Regions from separate parts of the Homo sapiens genome. Here region 2 is linked to region 1. The links come from fine-mapping of genetic effects on gene expression. Tissue or cell type: whole blood. Region 1 holds a variant in brackets; the other region holds the start of a gene. All regions are shown on one strand. Distances are from middle to middle.

Region 1 (8,102 bases):
CATATTTTATTAAAGAAAGTGAAGAGCCTCTTAAATGGGCCACAGAAGGCAATGGAAGCAGAAAGGGATGATGCATCCCCCACCACTAGGCTTCCCTGTGGACTGGGCTGAGTCATGCTGGGCCCCCAAAAGGGCTGCGCACAGGCCAGAAAAGCACCCGGACACATCAAGAGCAAGAGCCGTGATTCCCATTGCACTTGTCCTCAGGTGGGTCTGTTCTGGGACCGTGACCCATTTAAAGTGCATGAAAATGTCCTGAGTCTCAGTGGCCACCTTTGAGGAGGTGGCCTTTCTAATGAGCCCTTCCTCTTTCAGGGACATTTAGTCTCTTGGTCTCTGTTCCGGTTGCCCTGGGTTTTGAGGTTCTGTAGAGGTAAAGTCAAGTCAGAAGAAATGTGAAGCAAGACCGGGCAGAGTGGCTCACGCCTGTAATCCCAGCACTTCGGGAGGCTGAGGCGGGCAGATTACTTGAGGCCAGGAGTTCAAGACCAGCCTGACCAACATGGCAAAACCCCATCTCTACTAAAAACACACACACACACACACACACACACACAGACACACACACACACACACAAGAAATGGGAAGCAAGAACCCCAAGCCCATGACAACTCCCATAGCTATTTTTTGTTTTATTGTATACAAAGCACTTCTCACAGTTTCATTGGATTGCCAGAGGGTTATTGTAATTGTTATTCTGTTTTACAGAGAAGGAAAAAAAGGCACAGAAAATTAAGTATCTTGCCCAAAGTCACACAAAAACTAAATGTCAGAGCTACTGTCATTCTTAGTACCTTTTCTGTCTCTTGGCAGTGGGAGAGTCCATATCAAGTAGTTTTGTTCATGGTCAGCTCTTGGCAGTAAACCAAGGCCGTCACAGGCATCCTGTTAGCAGCTGCAGATGGCTGTGAATTGGGGAATAGTCACCAGACCTGCCTTGATGGCCTTTGTCTGGGTTGCCCTTGAGAATTCAGTTGCATCCTGCACATGTTCCCCTCACTGCTGCCTGAGGCCTCCCTAAACCTAAACTCTGACTGCACCTGCCTGTTTAGCACCCAACCTGGGCTTCACTCTTGATAGTCTCAAAGTCAGCTGGACCCAACACAGCTTCTGGGAACGTGCAGGACCTTTATTCGTACCCAGTTAGCATCCTCATTTAAGTGTCACTTCTTATTTACAGGAAAGTCAGGGCTGGGCCCGATGGCTCTCACCTGTAATCCTAGCACTTGGGAGGCCAAGGTGAGGATCGCTTGAGCCCAGGAGTTCGAGACCAGCATGGGCAACATGGAGAGACCCTATCTTTACAAAAGATTTAAAATTAGCCAGGTGTGGTGGTGTGTGCCTGTGGTCCCAGCTACCTGAGAGGCTGAAGCAGGAGGATTGTTTGAGCCTGAGAGGTCGAGGCTGCAGTGAACTGTGCACCACTGCACTCCAGCCTGAGCCACAAAGCAAGACCCTGTCTTAAAAAAATAAAGTCAGGAAGAAAGACCCCAAATGCTTAAAGCCACATACTTACTCCTTCCCTCCACCTGATCTCCCAGACAGGTAGCACTGGAAGATGGCTCTTGAAACACACCCTAAATTCCTCTTACACCCCCAGGTGAACAACAGCACAGCAAGATCTCATGCTGAGGCTCACCTCTCTTTTTTCTGCTAGCACTTCCAGGGGACAGTTAAAGTGCAGTGCTGTCAAAATCCTGGTCCCCGTGGTAGTGAGCCTCCCTTGGGCTGGTGGGGCTGGGGTGGAAAGATGACCAGTTGTAGTGAACGTGCCTCTGAGACCATTTTGGTTAGCAGCCCCCACTCAAGAATCACGGGTCTCTTAGTGGGAGGTGGGAAGTAAGTTTGTTGTTAGATGTCTACACTTCCCTACCTGTCTTCCCTTTTTCTCTTTTTATCTAAAGGGGTCCATGCTGTCTGCAGCTTCCCTGACTGCCAGGGACTCTGAAGTTCGAATTCAGCCAGGCAGCCTGTAATTTTATTTGTTAAATCTGACAATCCTGACCCCAAGGGCTTTTATCAAACCTAAGAGCAGGCCCTGTCATTGTGTTTCCAGCCATTCTGGCCTCATTGACGGTTTTGACACAGCAGCTTAGTACCTGAGCCAGACCAGGTGTTTTGGTTCCTCATTGCTGAAACCATAAGTCCAGACTTGGGCCATCTACTGTCCTTGGGAGCCTGTTGGAAGCTGGCTTCCTAAAACCATGATAACATTACCTGTCATTTTATTGAGTACCTGCTCTGTGCCCTGTGTGATGTAGACACTATTTTATTTAATCCACACAACAGTCCTTCAGAGTGGAGATGACTAGCCATTATTTATTATCTTTATTACAGATTAGGAAACAGAACTAGCAAGGTTAAGTGACTTGCAGAGTCACAGACAGCAAATGACAGAACTCAAACCTCCAGCCCTCTGGCCTCAGAGCCTGTACATTTCTGGCCAGCCCTCCAGAAGGGTCAGGGTAGTCAGGCCTAGCTGGAAATGAGGTAGGATGGATGGTACTTCCTAGGATGCTGTTGGAAGGGAAAGCAAGGCCCTGGACTCAGCAGGGGAACACAGGTTTCTGAACCTGGTAGCATTCTCACTATAAATGTAATGACTTTGTAATGACAGATGCATATTTTCCACAGTGCAACAAAAGAAAAATTAGTGCAGAGATTCAATTTTGTCTCCCATTTTCCATGGCAATTTTTGCTCTCTCCATAGATTAATTAGCAGCAGAGATCTCCTCCGCCCAGGCAAATCGCAGCACGCTTTATGGTGAGGAGGTGCATTAAGATGCAGCTGTGTCTCATTAAGCAGCCAGCCTCACTCCTAGCAAGCGCGCCTGTGCTTCAGCCCTTGCTGCTTTCCCGTCCTGCCTGGAGGACAGAGGGAAAGTTTGCTGAACCCAACCAGATTAGGGAGCAGAGTGTCCACCTTTCAAGGGGATCCTTGAAAGGAGAGATCAGAGGCCCTTAAACTCATTCTCTTAGAGGCATTTAGGGAAAGAGTTCTCCTGTCATCTTAGCAGAAGCAACCTAGACGCAAACAGGGTGGAGGATACTGCGGAGAGGAGAAAAGGATGAGGGGAAGAAAAGAGCTCAAAGCAGTTAAATCACTTCTAAAGTGTGCACTTTATGAACCTCAGCTCACTTCACCTTCACTGCAGTCCTGTGAGGTCATTTTTACTGTCTTCTTTCCTTCATTACCACATGCCCCCTTTTCATGTTTTGATGTATGTATGCAGGAGGCCTAGCTTTCTCTTACCCACCAATTCAACACACCACTAAAGCCAAGAAAAACAGCATCACCATGCTGCTGTAGAGAAAAGTGAGGCTCAAAGATGTTCATTCCTTTGCCCAGCTAATCAGTGAGCTAGAGCTAGGACTTGAACCCATGCTTGTGTAAACCGGTATTCTTTCTTCTGCCCTTAAAGTCTTGTTAGAAAATTGCAACATCTTCCTGCCACCCAGCCTCTAATATACTTTCTCATTGATAAGCTGTTGCCTTCCTTTTATTTTCACCATCCTTGTTTAGACCAAATGTGAGTGGTTTGGATTGTACTGGAAGAGTCATGGGTGGTCACTCTCGGCACCATTTACTGTAACTTAGTTTATCCCTGGGGGATGGGACTGTGCAGGGGAGGAGTTTTTCCTACTGGATTCTACTGACAAACACTGTTTTCATCTTCTAGGTACATTGAACGGAAAGCCTTCCT[T/C]GACCGAGTGGATCACAGGCAGTTTGAAATTGAGCGAGATCTCAGGCTGAGCAAAATGAAACCTTGATGTTACGGGCTAAATCAAGAGCAGCTTAATCCTGTTTACAATGTGAGCTTTTTGTGCGTCTGTGAAATGTTTTACAGTGTTTCTCATCATCTGTTTCCCAGCAAGGTCTTTTTTTTTTCTACATTGAAGTTCTGTCTATGTATCTTAATCACAAATGGTTTCATTCACTTTACTTTTAAAAATTTGTCCTTAAATGAATAAATAAAATAAAAGTTGGTCCTGTGAGAGGATAATGAAGATGACGACCTCGCTCACCTTCCCTTTATTCTGCCGCAAAGTCCCACCCAGTTCAAGACAGCACATTCCAGGTCTGTCCAGGCTGGCAGAGGTCTTGCCAGGCATGGTGAAGATAGCTGACCAACCTGGGTGTGAATTTTCCGGGGCCAAGAGGCTCTTTCTGCAGCCAGCCTTGCCCCGAAGACCTAGAGGAGGCGGCTCACTAGAGTGACTGGAATGCCAGGCCCCTTCGCAGCTTGTTCTCATTTCCACTCGGGCTTCTCTTCTGATCTCTCTTTCTCCTGAATGGATTCCTACTGATGGCATGTAAGGCTGAAAATAAGGATATATTATTGCTGAATTAGCTGTTTTTTCCCTTCAGCCTTTTTCCTCTTCCCAAAGAAAAGTTAAATTCAGATATGCTCCCACTTCAATAATTCATTAATTTTTAGTTTGTCAAAGAATATTCTGAAGGATTTTCTTTTTTATACTCATAAGAAAATGTAAATTTCAAACTTCCTGCTTAGAGTCAGACATTCTTTGCAGAACAGCAGGGAGGAGAGTAAGAGAGTAACATCTTCAGTGAAGAGGGAAAGAGGGATAGAGACCATTCATATTAATAAGCGGGAAACCCCACAACCTGCTTCTGGTGTGTGTGCCTGCATGTGCATGTGTGTTACCCGAGTACCATGACAGGTTTGGGTGATGACAGGTTACCTAAGACTGCATTCCATTTCTTGCTGTACCAGCTTTGTGGCCCTGACCACAGGTCATTTTTCTGTGCCTCCATTTTCTGGTCTGCAAATGGCATGAATAACACTAGTACCTCCAAGGGGTGGAGTAAGCTAATGACACACCCGTCGGGTGTGAGTACTAGTTTATGGCAGGTCTCCCAATCTAGGCCTCTAATGTGGTGGGAATTCATAGCAACAAAGACCCAACTGTCAACACTAGATGGTTATGGGCTATGGATCTTATTACTCAGAAAGGTAGTTTACAAGCTAAATTTGAACACAATGTCTATTCACATCCCCTCTGATAAATAATTCTAAGTGATTGTAGAGCATTTCAGGCCAGCGTCACAACAGGCGGCCTGCGAGGTCTTAGTTATGGTCCCAAATGGGACATAATAACTGAGGAAGGTGGGCCAGGTGGCTCATGCCTGTAATCCCAGCACTTTGGGAGGCCGAGGCAGGTGGATTGCTTGAGCTCAGGAGTTCACGATCAGCCTGGGCAACATGATGAAACCCTGTCTTCACCAAAAATACAAAAAGAAATTAGCCAGGCATGGTGGTGCATGCCTGTAGTCCCAGCTACTCAGGAGACTAAGGTGGGAGGATCACTTAAGCCCTGGAAGTTGAGGCTGCACTTAGCCAAGATCGTGCCATTTCACTCCGGCCTGGGCAAAAGGAGTGAGACCCTGTCTGAAAAACAAAAAAAGAATAACCTAAGAGCTGCCAATATTTTGATTAGAGGACATCCAGACCTTCAGGAGGTAGCAGCCAAGATTTGATGTGAATGTCCTCCCACATGGTACTCTCTGGCTCATCATCCGTCATTCACCACCATTTGGCAACTGTTTCCCTAACTCTTCTCTGGAGTTCTGAGTCCCTCTTCCATTGCGCTTCACAAAGTTCTTCATCTCAGCAGCCAGTGTCTCAGCAACACGTGAGCTGGCTCTCTCCCTATTTGAAAAATGATCTGAAATCCAATAGAATGAATGGTGCTGAGTTCATAGTAAGTTAGGGTTTTTCTTTTTAGCAAATGTTAACACCTGTGAAGCCTAAGGGATTAAGACAAAAGCTGCAAAGCCTGCTGGGTTCTTCTCACAGGTGGGTTTGCTATTCCTGTTTTGCTCCAAGCCATGAAAGGAGAAGTCAGATGTGTCAGTGAAAGTCGTAACTGTGTGCTTGGGCCCTGCCTTTCTTGTTCAGGATCCAGCCCCCCGCCACAGGTTTTCTCCATCTGTACCTGTGTTAAGTTAATGTCATGATTCTGGAGAAAGGTCGGTTCCTTTCTGCTGTCTGTTGATTGGTGCCCCTTTTCCCAGCAGGGTTGCTGCCCACATCTGACCTCCACACAATCACCCATTACCTCTCCATGAGTCTTTTAGAAAGCCCCTCTAGTCTAGTCTTTTTTGACAGATTCTGGCTGCCTGTCAGGGAATACATGGCTATTTGCATCGATCCTATTACAGGTGCCCTGTTTCCCAATTTGTAGATCCGTGCTTCGGAGTCTCACACTTTCCCACTTTAAACTGTGCTGGTTGCCTTGACTTTAGCTGTCACTCTCTTGGTCTACATGGAACCTCTTTAAAAGCCTCCTGTACTGACCTCACTTCATCTCACTGATAAACCACTTACTCTGACTGATACATGTGCATCTGTATGTATGTATTATGTATACCTGTGTCATCTTACAATGAGGGTTCATATCAGACTTTCATTTATGTCTCACTGGCCATAGCTGGGTCATTGAACTGCCTCTAGCTGTAGGGAAGGCTGGAAAAGTGAGTGTCATGGAAAACAGGCAAGGCAGGGTGGGGAGGTGAGCCCTGGGGGACTGCCCACACTCTCCTAGAACAGCCTGAGCACATCAAAGTCCTTCCTTAGAGCCTCTGACAATTTTTTTTTTTTTTTGAGATGGAGTCTCACTTTGTTGCCCTGGCTGGAGTGCAGTGGTGCAACCTTGGCTCACTGCAGCCTCCACCTCTTGGATTCAAGTGATTTTCCTGCCTCAGCCTCCCAAGTTGCTGGGATTACAGGCGTGTAATCCTGGCTGGATTACACAACCACGTCTGGCTAATTTTTGTATTTTTAGTAGAGATGGGGTTTCACCATGTTGGTCAGGCTAGTCTCAAACTCCTGACCTCAGGTGAACCACCCACCTTGGCCTTCCAAAGTGTTGGGATTACAATGGCCATGAGTGTGGTAGAGGGGACCCTGGTACAGGAAGGAGGTCCTCTCTACCTCCTAAGATCCTGTGCCTGTTTTTCTTTTCTTTCTTTCTTCTTTTTTTTTTTTTTTTGAGACAGGGTCTTGCTCTGTTGCCCAATTAGTGCAGTGGCATGATCATGGTTCACTGTAGCCTCAACCTCTTGGGCTCAAGAGATCCTTTCATCTCAGCCTCCCAAGCAGCTAGGACCACAGGTATACACCACTGCACCCAGCTAACTTTGTAATTTTTTGTAGAGATGGGCATTCACTGTGTTGCCCAGGCTGGTCTTAACTATGCCTGTTTTAACAACTTGGAAACCAAGCTTTGCAGATTCTGACACCTCATCTTCCCAGACTCTGAAGGGCCTCCTCTGGCCCTTTGTTTTTACTCCTTACTGTTGTGGATCAAGTTCAAGGGACAGGAGAACTGGCCAGCAAGAGAGGGTCCTTAGGCATTAGCAGTGGGTATCTACAAATGGGTGGCTGTTTCTTGTAGGTGTAAGCCAGGCCCCAGGAGGCAGGAGTCTTCTCAAGCCCTGCCTGACCATCCCCATGGGCTGGGTGCTGTGGCTGCAGAATGGAGCAGGCCTTTGGCACCAGCCAGTGACCCAGGCAGAGGACCAAGCAGGTGGGTGTCCATGGGGGTGCCTAAGACGGGGATGGACCACTCTTGGGTATTCCTCTCGGTCATCTGTGCTGCCTGAGCCCATCTGTGCCCTCAGTGGGACCTACCTTCTCAGCCAGCATTGCTACCTGTCCCATCCTCTTCCTACCTCATGCTCAGAGGACTGAGCCTCCTCAGCAAATGCCTAGCCTTTCTCAGTGGACCCACCGAGACCAGGCTGGTGGGTGGGACTAATTAAAGTGTGTTTGCCCTCAATCAAGAATCACCTTTTCGGCCAGGCACAGTGGCTCACGCCTGTAATCCCAGTACTTTGAGAGGCTGAGGCAGGCAGATCGCTTGAGGCCAGGAGTTTGAGACCAGCCTGGGCAACATACAGCGAGACCCTATCTCTGCAAAAAATTTAAAAATTAGCTGGACATAGTGGTGCATGGCTGTGATCCCAGCTACTTGGGAGACTGAGGTGGGAGGATCACTTGAGCCCAGGGAGTCAAGGTTGCAGTAAGCTGTGATTGCACCCTTGCTCTCCAGCCTGGGCGACAGAGCAAGACCCTGT
Region 2 (8,085 bases), 140 kb before region 1:
CATTGAATTAGCAAAAACCGAACCATGGGTCCTGGGAGAAATACAGGGTTAGGTTCCTGTGAACCTCTGGTCAACACTTTTGTCAACTGATCGGTATGTAACTTTGTTTTATGTGTGTTTCTGTTCAAAGACACCTTATTTAATATGTATTTCTTAAAAATAATCTGCAGTATTTACAATAAAATTTCAATGACAGTAGTTTGGTGTAATGTACTCTAGTGTACTGAGATTGCACTACTTTTTTTTTTTGAGTCAGTCTTGCCCTTTTGTCTAGGCTGGAGTGCAATGGCATGGTCTTGGCTCACTGCCACCTCCGACCCCCAGGTTCAAACGATTTTCCTGTTTCAGCCTCCTGAGTAGCTGGGATTACAGGCGCCCACCACCACACCCAGCTAATTTTTCTATTTTTAGTAGAGACAGGGTTTCACCATGTTGGCCAGGATGGTCTTGAACTCCTGACCTTGTGATCCGCCCACCTCAGCCTCCCAAAGTGCTGGGATTACAAGTGTGAGCCACCGCGTCCAGCCTGTACAACCTTTTCATTGGCACACACAGAGTACACACATATAGTTCCCATATACAGTCAACAGTATAACATACTGTACAGTTCCCACAGTAAACACATACACTACTTTGCACACATACTGTATACCCTACAGTACAGCAATACAAATAAAGGGAAAAAGTTCAAAGATGGAGCATCCTAAGTTTTATAAAAATATCAACTAAAATCTTACGGTTGATGGAGCTGCACAATGTGGTTAAACCTCTCGACCTTGGCTTGCCCCACAGAAACCAGGGGAGGGGTGAGTGAAATTTATTCTGCAGAAGAGGAAGAGGGTGGCAGGTCAACCTCTGGCATTTCTACCTTAGGAGTCTGGCTCTTGACACTTGTTGAAGGAGTGGGCAATCTTCCCTCCCAAACTGGCTTGAGAAATTGCATTAGCCTTGCCTGCCTGGCTTTTCTGCCTGAAATCTTTAAGCATCTCGGTATAAGGGGCAAACGCAGTGGAGGCCAGCCATTTAAATTTGAGGCTTCGATCAAGCGTAGGGTCACACTCTTCCATGTCGCTAAAAATTTTTTCCAAGGCAGAACTCCATTCTGATATTTTGGCGCTGTGAGAGGGACAATTCTGGAAGTCTTGGGCCGACTTTCATGGCCATCAACTCCAATGCCTTCTTTTGCCATCTCATCCAGGTCTTCGTTGGTTGGTTCCACTGCCTTCTCTGCCAAAATGTACTCCACATCTCCTTCCTTCACGTCATCAAAGCCCTCTCCACTTACCTGCTGTGCCATATGCATTATGTCTCTGACAGTGTTCTTTATATTTTCTGTAACACCTTCAAACCCTTCAAAATTCTCCACGCAGTCTGGCCAAACATTTTCCCAACAGTTATTGGTAGTAGCCTGACCAATGCTCTCCCAGGCTGTACTGACATAATCAATAACGTTGCATGTAGTGACCGACTTCCAATAGTCCAGCATGGTGGTTTCCTTGTTGGTCCTGAGAGCCTCACAGGCCTTCATATAAAGCTCCCTTGTGTAGTGTGCCTTGAATGCTTTTATTATGCCCCGATTGAGGGGTTGGATGAGAGACTTAGTGTTTGGGGGCATAAAAAGAACTCCTATGTTGGCGTGTGCATTTTCGAGTTCTTTGCAGCAATGGATTGTAGCATTATCCAAAATTAACAAAACCTTGAAGGTGCCCGGCGCGGTGGCTCACGCCTGTAATCCCAACACTTTGGGAGGCCGAGGCAGGCGGATCATGAGGTCAGGAGATCAAGACCATCCTGGCTAACACGGTGAAACCCCGTCTCTACTGAAAATACAAAAAATTATCCAGGCGTGGTAGTGGACGCCTGTAGTCCCAGCTACTCGGGAGGCTGAGGCAGGAGAATGACGTGAACCCGGGAGGCGGAGCTTGCAGTGAGCCGAGATTGCGCCACTGCACTCCAGCCTGGGCGACAGAGCGAGACTCCGTTTCAAAACCAAACCAAAACAAAACAAACCCAAACAAACAAAAAACAAAACAAAACAAAACAAAAAACCCTTGAAGGCAAGGTTTCTGCCCTGGAGACAGTGTTCAGCTTCTGGGATGAAGCAGTTGTGGAACCAATCAGACATCATCCACACTTTTTTGTTCCACCTCCAATAGACTGGCAGATGGTTCACGTATTTCCCGTTAAGTGCTTGTGGATTTTGGGTTCTTTACACCATTAGGAGTTTGCACTTTAGTCGCTCTTGGCATTGGCGCACAATAACAAGGGTGCATGATCCTGGCATGATTTAAAGCCAGGGGCTTTGGAGGCCGTTTGCATTATATAGGTTCGTTTGCCAACATCCTTGTAAAATAAGCCAGTCTCATCCGCATTGAAAACCTGCTCTTTCACATAACCCTTTTCCTGTATAACACTTAGCAAGTATTTTTAAAATTCTTCCGCAGCCTCCTGATCTGCAGAGCTCGCCTCACCTGCAAGTTTAACATTTTTCACCCCGTATCGCCTTTTGAAACGCGCGAGCCGGCCAGCACTCGCCGAGAAGGGCTTAGCATTTCTTTGACTCTGGGTAACGTGACCACAGATATCTTTGGCTTTCAGCCTCACCACAATGCTGTCCACTATGTTTTTTTTAATCGATTGACATCTCATGAATCCACAAATTTAGCCGCTTTTCCATCTTTTCCATCTTTGTCATAGCTTCATCACGCACGATGGAGGTCACTTCAGCACTATCCGGAGCGGCCTCACGGACAGATCGGTGAATTTCCTTTTCCTTTTTCTTGATGTACCGGATTGTCGACTCGTTAACATTGAGCTCATGGCCAACAGCACTGTAACTCATGCCTGATTGGAGCTTATCCAACACGCGGACTTTCTCCGTAAGGCACATCACGGTCTTCTTTCGCTTAGGAACACTGGGCAGAGCTTAAGCACTACGCTTGGGGGCCATTTTAGAAAGCAAAACCACCCACAAAAAGCAGAAAAAAAAGTGTCAGTAAACAGACTGCGGAAAGGACTCTTTGTTTACAGCACAGGAGCTGCGACTAGAAGGCGGCGCTTCTCCCAGTTCAAACTTCAGCTGGGAACCTTACCTCCGCCAACTCCAAATTTTCACCCTCTGCGCATGCCCGGGAAGAACCCCAGACAGTACCGTGATGATTGATTTTAGGGTTACAAATACATTTTAGCAAGTAAGTGAATTTGGCATTACGAATTAATGATTAATGAAGGTCACCTGTATTTCCATAGATATGTAATTTTATTTAAGCAGGTTTATTATATTAAGGCGGCGAGGCAGCGCCGAAGACTACAAGTTCCAGCATGCACCGCGTCCGGGCGGGTTCGGGCTCCCAGCGAGGGCTTCAGGGACGCCAGCCCGGAGGCATCGGCCGGAAGTGTCGTAGGGCAACCACGTAGTACTCTCTGCGCATGTGCAAAGCGCTGTCGGGGGCCGCCCTAGCTGCCGTCGCCGCCGCCGGGGCTCTATGGTCTCTCCCTAGAGCTTTGCCGTTGGAGGCGGCTGCTGCGGTCTTGTGAGTTTGACCAGCGTCGAGCGGCAGCAACATGGAGGAATTCGACTCCGAAGACTTCTCTACGTCGGAGGAGGACGAGGACTACGTGCCGTCGGGTGAGCGATTCCGCCTGAGGCGAGAAGCGAATTGCCCCGCCCCACGCCTCACGTGAGGCGCGCTCTGCCCCCGCGGGCGTCTGCCCTGTGGCCCAGGTGGTCCAGGGGGGCTCCTGTTCTCGAGCGTCCGCTCCCTCAGGCCCCTCATCCTCGGCCGCTCCGGCCCGAGGCGTGTGCGCGTGGCGGTTCTGTGCTCCCCTCCCGTTGGGCAGCTCCGGCCGCCGCCCCCTCTTGCAGCGCGGGAACCGGCACATGGACACGGCCCCTTGTCGCTAGGGACGCTCGTCGGTCAGCCCCGAACGACACCGCTGCTTCAGAAGTCGGGGCGGCAGTCCGAGCCTTGGAGGTTTTTTTCAGCCCTGGCCCGAGAGAGCTGCTGGCCACCACCCCGTCCAAGATAGAGCTGTCCGCTCTCCGCCTGGTTGTTAGAAAGTTCTGATAGAAAGTTCCCCCTTTGATGCTTTTTGCCTCATTGTGACGTCCACCCATCCTCTCCTCTCAGAACTTTCTTTCCTTAGGGATCTCAACCCGAACGGGGTGAGAATGAATCTTACTGAAGAAATCTTTCTGTTCCCCCTTCTTGGTCTTCCCCAGACAAACCGTCTCGTTGAAAGTATCTTCACCCATTCACATCTTCAGTTGAAAGACTAGACAAACAAGAAACAAACAGACTAACAAAACACAACCCAGGAGTCGTCCCTATTCTCTTTGTTTTACTTTGTTCTGTTCTGTTTTATTTAAAGACAGGGTCTTGCTGTTGTCTAGGCTGGAGTGCAGTGATGCGATCTTGGCTCACTGCAACCTCAGACTCCTGGGCTCAAGCGATCCTCCCGTCTCAGCCTCTGGAGTAGCTGGGACTGCAGGTGCAGGCTGCCACGCCCGCTAATTTTTTAAATTTTTTTTTTTTTTTTTTTTTTTAGAAATGGCATCTTGCTATGTTGCCCAGGCTGGTCTCGAACTCGTGGGCTCAAGTGATCCTCCCACCTCAGCCACCCAAAGTGCTGGGATTACAGGCATGAGCCACCGCGCCCCGGCTAGTGAAGTATTTCTAAAAGGCACGTTGAAAACTAGCCATTCCATTCCTGGCGCGGTGGCTCATGCTTGTAATCCCAACACTTTGGGAGGCTGAGGTGGGTGGATCACAAGGTCTGGAGATCGAGACCATCCTGGACAACATGGTAAAACCCCGTCTGTACTAAAAACACAAAAATTAGCTGGGCATGGTGGCACGCGCCTGTAGTCCCAGCTCCTCAGGAGGCTGGAGCAGGAGAATCGCTTGAACTCGGGAGGTGGAGGTTGCAGTGAGCCGAGATCACACCACTGCACTCCAGCCTGGGTGACAGAGCGAGACTCCGTCTCAAAAAAAAAAAAAAAAAAGTTAGCCAGTCCCATCACCCTCATCCCTATTTTATTTAATATTCCTCAGGAGAAACTTCTTTCCACCTTTTGAATTTGGTATTATATTTCTGTTGTCTATTGATTTAACCCATGTATAGTAGGTATCATTTTTAGTAGCCCCTGACCTCCTTCCCCTCATCCCAAACACACACACAAACACTTCCACCTTCGGGGCCTCCCCAACTCCGTAGTCTGCCGTTGAACCTGTGTCCAGTTTTAGTTAGATCAGTATTCAGTGTTTTTTTTTCTTTCGAGACAGTGTCTCGCTCTGTGGCTCAGGCTGGAGTGCAGTGGCACAGTCTCTGCTTAATGCGGCCTCTGCCTTCCCGGTTCAAGCAGTTCTGCCTCAGCCTCCTAAGTAGGTGGGATTACAGGCGCCCGCCAGCACACCCGATCGATTTTCTTTTCTTTTCTTTTTTTTTTTTTTTTTTTTTTTGAGACAAGAGTTTTGCTCTGTCTCCCAGGCTGGAGTGCAGTAGCGGGATCTCGTCTCACTGCAAGCTCTGCCTCCCGGGTTCACGCCATTCTCTTGCCTCAGCCTCCTGAGTAGCTGGGACTACAGGTCCCCGCCAGCACACCCGAATGATTTTTTTGTATTTTTAGTAGAGACGAAGTTACACCATGTTGGCCAGGCTTGTTTCAAACTCCTGACCTCAAATGGTCTGCCCGCCTCGGCCTCCCTGAGTGCTGGGATTACAGGCGTGAGCCACCGTGCCAGGCCCAGTGTTTTTTTTTTCTAATGACAGTGTGAATAAACATCATGTTGACAGCTGAACCGTATGTTATACAGATTACTTTTCCTGCACTTCTTGTTTTCTCTGGTGCTAATAATTGCCATTTTTTGTTGCTACTTAGCTGTCTATGTACTTAACTGCTGTAAACCAAAAATAAAATTCTAAGGCGCCCCCAACCATCTGAATGGACTTCCTCCTTAGCCAGGGCTCTTTAACATTTAACCTGAGAGACTGTTTTGGGCCATGATGGGAAGTGGGGGCTGAACCTGCCTCATTGTATGTCTCTGACATTAACATCGATGCAGACTTTAAGTCTGATAATAAACATTTTGCAACCTATTCTCTCTGAAGCCTGTCTGCTAAAAGCTTCATCTGTATGATAAAACTGTGTTCTCAGCCGAGCAGTGGCTCGAGCCTATAATCCTATCACTTAGGGAGGCAGAGGCTGGTGGATCATTTGAGGTCAGGAGTTCAAGACCAGCCTGGCCAACGTGGTGTAACCCCATCTCTACTGAAAATATGAAAATTAGCCAAGTGTGGTGACGGGCGCCTGTAATCCTATCTACTGGGGAGGCTGAGGCACGAGATCTCTTGAACCCAAGAGGTGGGGGTTGCAGTGAGTGAAGATCATGCTTCTGCACTCCAGCCTGGGTAACAGAGCAAGACTCCATTTAAAAAAAAAAAGTGGCCAGGTGCGGTGGCTCACACCTTTAATCCCAGCACTTTGGGAGGCTGTGGTGGGCGGATTGCCTGAGGTCAGGAGTTGGAGACCAGTCTGGCCAACATAGTGAAACCCTGTCTGTACTAAAGATATAAAAAAATAGCTGGGTGTGGTGGCGTGTGCCTGTAATCCCAGCTACTCCGGAGGCTGGGGCAGGGGAATTGCTTGAACCAGGGGCGTGGGGTTGCAGTGAGCTGAGGTTGCGCCACTGCACTCCAGCCTGGGCAACAGAGTGAGACTCCATCTCGAAAAAACAAACAAACAAACAAAAAAAACCTCTGGTCTCCACAACCTCTATCTTAACCCAGACATTCCTTTCTGTTTAGGCAAACTCAACCTGTTGCCAACAAGAAAATTTTTAAATTTACCTGTAGCCTGGAAGCACTCCCACCCCGAGTTGTCCTGTCTTAATGGACCAAACCAGTATATTTCTCAAATGTATTTGATTGATGTCTCATGCCTCCCTAAAATATATAAAACCAAGCTGCACCCCAACCACCTTGGGCGCGTGCTCTCAGGACCTCTTGAGGGCTGCATCATGGGCTGTGGTTACTCATATGTGGCACAGAATAATTCTCTTCAAATACTTGACAAGAGTTTGACTCTTTTCGTCGACACTGCTAATTTGACTCTAAACTTTTAGAATTGTATAAATCATCTCCCAAAATATTTACATTCATTAGATTTTCACTTTAATCTTCTGAAACAGTCTTTGCCTTCTGGCCTCCACTTTGTCTTGGTTACCTTCTATGAGTACTCCAGTGTATTTACTTATTTATTTAGAGATAGAGTCTTGCTCTTGTCGCCCAGGCTGGAGTGCAGTAGCGTGATCTTGGCTCACTGCAACCTCCACCTCCCGGGTTTGAGCGATTCTCTTGCCTCAGCCTCCCAAGTAGCTTGGATACAGGTGCCCACCACCACACCCAGCTAATTTTTGTATTTTTAGTAGAGACGGGGTTTCACCATGTTGGCCAGGCTGATATTGAACTCCTGACCTCAGGTGATCCGCCCTCCTCAGCCTCCCAAACTGCTGGGATTACAGGCGTGAGCCACCACGCCTGGTCAGGAACATTCTTATGAGACCTTGAATGCCTAAAAGTAACCATGCCCCTCAGGCGTAATTGATTGTCTGTTTGAATTCTAGGTTGGAAATAATTTTCCATCAGAATTTTAAAGTGTTACTTCATTACTTTCTAGATTCCCATGTTGCTATTAATAAATATTTTGTTACTGATTTCTGCTCAATGTATAAGATCTGTTTGTCTCCGGAAGCTGGTAGAATATTCTCTTTGTTCCCATTTTCTTTTTTCTTTTTTTTCGAGACAGACTCTGTCTCTCTTGTCCAGGCTAGAGTGCAGTGGTGGCATCTAGGCTCCCTGCAACCTCCACTTCCCGGGTTTAAGCAACTCTCCCACCTCAGCCTCCGGAGTGGCTGGGACTACAGGTTCATGCCACCACGCCTGGCTAATTTTTGTATTTTTATAGTAGAGACGGGATTTCACCATGTTGGCCAGCCTGGTCTCGAACTCCTGACCTCATGATCTGCCTGCCTCGGCCTCCCAAAGTGCTGGGATTACAGGCGTGAGCCTCTACGCCTGGCCTGT

What was found. PIP is the estimated chance that this variant, and not a neighbour inherited with it, causes the effect.
Region 2: it holds the start of CFDP1, and the variant in region 1 is fine-mapped to the expression of CFDP1 in whole blood (TOPMed, PIP above 0.99).

The regions. Positions count from the first base shown.
Region 1 is chr16:75,289,622-75,297,723 of GRCh38, reverse strand. CFDP1 (craniofacial development protein 1) reads left to right here. Exons shown (of 7, transcript NM_006324.3): 7 at 3,682-4,014. The coding sequence ends at 3,772. Among named protein-coding and RNA genes, the nearest start is that of BCAR1, 42 kb to the right of the region's middle. The variant T/C (reference allele first, on the strand shown) is at 3,706.
Region 2 is chr16:75,428,832-75,436,916 of GRCh38, reverse strand. It overlaps CFDP1 (craniofacial development protein 1), which reads left to right and starts at 3,414. Exons shown (of 7, transcript NM_006324.3): 1 at 3,414-3,628. The coding sequence starts at 3,565. It overlaps LOC124903723 (tigger transposable element-derived protein 1-like), which reads right to left and starts at 1,713. Exons shown (of 1, transcript XM_047435019.1): 1 at 697-1,713. The coding sequence starts at 1,615. The coding sequence ends at 818. RefSeq lists enhancers at 2,808-3,375, 2,919-3,428 and silencers at 3,739-3,978, 5,235-5,434.